Linked DNA regions of Homo sapiens: region 1 is linked to region 2. Evidence: fine-mapped expression QTL. Tissue or cell type: whole blood. Region 2 holds a variant in brackets; the other region holds the start of a gene. All regions are shown on one strand. Distances are from middle to middle.

Region 1 (2,604 bases), 220 kb before region 2:
GCAGCCTGCACTGGGCACTAACTGAAGCCCTTGGGGATAAGTATTTGTAAGTTTGGGAGAAGGAAGACCTTTGGAAGAACCAAAGGCAGACCTGGGCCACCCTCAGTTAAATGGACAACACTAGTCCAGGAAATGATAAGGAAAAAGGCTTTAAGGTTCATCTCCTTCAGAGGTTTGCCTGGGCTGGCCCCATCATGGGTAACTTGTAAAAAATAGGTCGTGATACAATTTTTAAATTATTTTATTTATTTTTTTGAGACAGAGTCTTGCTCTGTCACCCAGGATGGGGTGCAGTGGTGCGATCTTGGCTCACGGCAGCCTCCACCTCTCGGGTTAAAGCGATTCTCCTGCCTCAGCTTCCTAAGTAGTTGGGACTACGGGCGCTCGCCACCACACCCAGCTAATTTTTCTTTTTTCTTTTCTAATTAGAACAGAGTTTTGCTATGTTGGCCGGGCTGGTCCCGAACTCCTGACCTCGGGTTATCCACCTGCCTCGGCCTCCCATAATGCTGGGATTACAGGTGTGAGCCACCGCGCCCGACCACAATATTGTATTTACTGTATTGCATTGTCTGCCTCCCTGCCACACAGCGTCTTCCAGGAGCTTACCAGTCCTCTGTGCATACCCCAGTAAGTAGCTCAGGCAGTGCATGACGCCCTCACCTTTCTCTAGGTATTATTGTATTTTAAAGCATCACTTCATTTAGTCCTCTCAACAACTTTTTTCCCCCCTTCTTCTATTTCACATGTGAGGAAATTGACGTCCCGAGGGTTAAAGCAAGTTACCCCATGACCGGGCTCCATACCCTCCGCGCCCCTTTCCCTGCGCGGTGGCTGTCCCTTCTCGGAGTGCAGAGGCTCCTAGTGCTCCACACTCTCGGGCTCCAAGGCCCCCTAACGCGCCGTGATAAAAATAATAATAACAATAACAACAGTGCTGCTTTATTTGCACAGAAAACAGGTTGTTTCGGGGCAAGGTACACTTGAGAAGGAGGCTAGGAACCGGAGAGAAGCAGCAGGCGGGGGCGGAGGGCGAAGGGAGGGAAGGGGAGAGGGCAGGGGCTGGCAGGCGCTGTGTGCCGGGCGAGGAGGCCGGGGCGGGCCGGGGCGGGGAGCGGGCGAAGCGCCATTGGCCCGAGCACCCGGGACCGGCCCCACCGCACCGCCCGCCGGGGGCGGGGGTAGCGGGGAGGGACTCGCGCACGCCGCTCTGCGTTGACAGTGCCGGGCGACACCCGGGCCGTGCCGCCAGCGTCCGTCGGGAGAGTGAAGGCTCGCAACGCCTTGCCCGGGGGAAGGTAACGCGCCGCGCCCGGGGCTGCGCGGTTTGCACCGCCAGGCCGAGGGCTGGGGGCCAGAAGACAAGAGAGACGGCGAGGCGCGCTCCCTGCCCGGCAGCGACTCGGAGGTGCGCACTCGGGTTCCAGTCTCTACTTGGCCCACTCGCTGTGTTACCTCGGGCAACTTTGTTTCCCTCTCTTGGTCTCTGCTTCCTCCTCTGTTAAGTGAGGGAGGTGGTGTAGAATGTTGTTCCTTAGTCTAACCAGTTCTAAAATGGGAACTGCGTTTTGGCACGGGGAAAGCTCCTTTCCTCAGTTTCCCACCTACTCCAGAGCCACCTCCGCTGCCCAGGCGGCCAGGAAGCTGGGATGCCCGGGTAGGCGAGGGTTCTGCTGAGCTATCGCGTTTTCTAGGGCTTTCAGGGACTGACCTGGGCTTGGGGCTGGGTGCTGGGGAGACCTGGCTGCAGAGTAACTGCCCCCAGATTGCTCAGGTGCAGAAAGGTAGGAGCGTCAGCACCTGTTTACAGGTGGGGTGTTGGGAAGGGCCGGCCAGGGGATGATGATTTCTCCTTTGAAAATAAGACGTGTTTTGGAATTCTCTTCCATACCCACACCTCGTCCCACGGCGAGCTATAAACTACACGAGTGGGCTTTATCATCCTTTGAAGTGGAAAAGCGACTGTTTTTAGCGTCTAAGACACAGGGCTCCACCAGCATATAGGAAGTGGGTCTCTCTTTCTCTGCACCCATCCTGCCGCGTCTTCCCTTTCTTTCCTCCTCTCTTTATAAATCCCCTTTGACCTTGAGGGGCTCCACTTCCTGCCTTAATGAAAAGTTCTTCTTTTCATTTAGTGCTGGTTTGTGACCAGCAGCCTCCAGGGCTTTGGGCGCAGGGTTGAGATAGAAGCCTAGATAAGAACAGGCTATGAATCACCCTGTCAGCCCCCTGAGCCACACAGCCCGGCAGGGATGTGCAGAGGAAGCCCGGTGGGGCTTCAGACAGATAGACCCTGGAAGGTGGGGTGGATGCAAACTGCCATCCAGCTTCCCGTCCCCTTGTTGGCAGCCATTCCCCACCAGGATGGTGACCCCTGCTGTCTGCTGGATGGAGCAGCCAGATAGAGTAGGATGATTGAAAGGAGCTGAGGACTTGGCTGGATTTCTATGGAAGGTCTCCAGCATTTCCCTTCCCTCACTTTCCTCCACCCCTGAAGTTCTGCCCCTTCTCACCCTTAGTGTGGTATCCAGGTGAAATCAGATTGCAGAACCCATCAAGAGCAGCTAGGAAGGAGAAGAGGTGTGGGGACGGCAGCAGGGCAAT
Region 2 (2,760 bases):
TCAAGGCACTTTTATTAGGTTATTTATTCTTCAGTTCTTCAGTTAGGTGATAAAGAAGCAAGATTTATCTTTTTTTTTTTTTTTTTTTTTTGAGACAGAGTCTCACTCTGTTGCCCAGGCTGGAGTGCAGTGGTGCGATATCGGCTCACTGCAACTTCTGCCTCCTGGTTCAAGCGATTCTCCTGCCTCAGCCTCCCGAGTAGCTGGGATTACAGGCATGCACCACCACTCCTGGCTAATTTTTTTATTTTTGGTAGAGACGGGCTTTAACCATGTTGGTCAGACTGGTCTCGAACTCCTGACCTTGTGATCTGCTGGCCTTGGCTTCCGAAAGTGCTGGGATTACAGGCATGCACCACCGTGCCCGGCCTTGAATCATTTTTAAAAATTATTTTTGTACTTCTAAATTGACTTTTAATTTTTAAACAACTATATTACCACCATAATTGTTTTTGAAGACTTTAAATAAATAATATTATGGGTTAGTTAAATTTTAGATATGTAACACAAATGTTTTTTGTAACTTATTGAAAATTATGTGTTATTCTTTAGTCATTACTTATAAAGTATGGAAATAACTATAGATATATTTCACAGATTTCAACCCCTTCTAAAATCATATTAGTCTTGTTTATCTAACTTATTGCCTTATATTTCTTCCCAGTGTGTGAGGGGGAATTTTTTGGAGAGGAATTAGAGGGAAATTAGAGGAGAACAAGCGGTAAATGATACTTTAAAAAAACTCTACCAGTGGCAAAATCTTAGAAAAGGGCTTATCTTGTTTAATGGAGGCAGTTAAACCTTACATGTTAGACTTTGTGTTAGAATAGAGTACATTTCATTTCCATAAATCTTAACAGAGAACCTTGTGGATTTTGGAGATTACTAGCAATAGGGGTGATACAGCAGATGTATTACATATTGGGATTTATCATCTCTTTGTTGAAGCCTTCTAACACATTCCTACTTGCTGGCAGCTTTAACTAGCCCTTTCATTGTATCTCATAGCATTTTTTTCATATTACTAAAAAGCATTTATCACATTGCCTTATGGTAAATCGAATATACTTCTGCCCCTTTTTATATCCCCATAATGTGGACCTTTAATAATTATAATAGACTTTTAATAAATTTTTATTCATTTATCAACACTTCTTTTAAAAATACCAGTTATGTGTTGGACATTGTGCTATGCAATAGGGATACAACAGTAAGCTATAGAGGACAGTCAATACCCTTATGGACAAGTAGGGGAAAAGAGACATTAAACACACAATTAATTATTATTCAATTATAATGATGGTAAGGTCTATAAAATAAATAT[G/A]TATAAGAGTTTTAGTTTGAGTAAAAAAAACCCTACATATTTTCCTAATAGTAATTCGAATGTAGTAATTTTATTTCAAAATAACATCTCTTTGAATATATCACGGCTATTTTGGTCTTAATTATTAATCATAATGTGTATTTTTTGCCATCTGATCATAAGGAAGTGAAGGATTATTTAAATAGTGGGTGTGAAGGCCCCTACAGTTGTGTGAATTTGGAGCAACTTGGCTGTATTTATTATTCTTTTAGTTTATTTATATCTTTTTTTGTTAACCCATTTAAAGATTAATGGTGAAACAACCTGGCTGTAATCTTCAAAAAGAGAGATTCTCAAGATGTGGTTCTTGGACCTCAGCACTAGTCACCTGTGAACTTGGTTAGAATTGCAAATTCTTGGTTCTCACCCTAGACCTACTGACTGAATAAGAAACTCTGGAAGTAGGGCTCAGCAAATGGTACTTTACTAATCCTTTCAGGTGATTCTGAGGCATGTTAAAATTTGAAAACCTATGTTCTAAATGGTTAGGTATTTGGCCATTCAGGGAAAGTAATATATTAACAGTGTGTGAATATTATTACTAAACTTGGGAGAATATGACAGTGGCATTTTTTCCTTCTTGTGTTTTATAGGATCTGATTTAATCTGTAACGACTATAATGAGCCATTATCATTCTGGGACATATCTTGAGTACTTTGTAATCCATAAACTCACAATTATCATTATGGTGTCCAATTTTCTTTTTAAAATATAGTAGCATATCTTTTTATTTTTAATTTTCTTTTTATTTTCCTTCCTTCCCTCCCTCCCTCCTTTCTTTCCTTCCGTCCTTCCTTCCTTCTTTTTTCTTTTCTTTTCTTTTTTTTTCTTTTCTTTCTTTTTTCTCAGTCTTGTCTGTTGCCCAAGCTAGAGTGCAGTGGTGCAGTCTCAGCTCACTGCAACCTCTGCTTTCTGGGGTCAAGCAATCCTCCCACCTCAGCCTCCCTGGTACCTGGGACTACTGGTATGCGCAGTCATGCCTGGCTAATTTTTGAATTTTTTTTGCGGAAAGGAGACTTCACCATTTTGCCCAGGCTGGTGTTGAACTCCTGGGCTCAAGTGATTCTCCCACCTTGGCATTCCAAAGTGCTGGGGTTACAGGCATGAGGCACCACACCCAGCCTTACAATAGAATATCTAAAACATTTAAGGGATTTTTTTCTCTTTGGATAATTAATGATAGTTTCTATTTATGTTACAAGATAGTTTCTACTTATGTTACAATAATTATTCTATGGATAGAATTCTGTTACAATAAGTATCTCTATGGATAAAGCTACATTGATATGTTGTTGCTGGCCCATGTGAGAGAGGCATTTCCTAGGTAATGCTTGCTGCCACTCACAATCTCAAAGCATGTGCTTCAGTTGAAACAAACAAATTACATATCATGGAT

What was found. PIP is the estimated chance that this variant, and not a neighbour inherited with it, causes the effect.
Region 1: it holds the start of SYTL2, and the variant in region 2 is fine-mapped to the expression of SYTL2 in whole blood (INTERVAL, PIP 0.95).

What each region holds. Positions count from the first base shown.
Region 1 is chr11:85,809,758-85,812,361 of GRCh38, reverse strand. SYTL2 (synaptotagmin like 2) reads left to right here and starts at 1,221. Exons shown (of 20, transcript NM_206927.4): 1 at 1,221-1,408. RefSeq lists a silencer at 1,083-1,262.
Region 2 is chr11:85,592,396-85,595,155 of GRCh38, reverse strand. The region is part of intron 3 of DLG2 (discs large MAGUK scaffold protein 2); the gene reads left to right. Among named protein-coding and RNA genes, the nearest start is that of DLG2, 34 kb to the left of the region's middle. The variant G/A (reference allele first, on the strand shown) is at 1,325.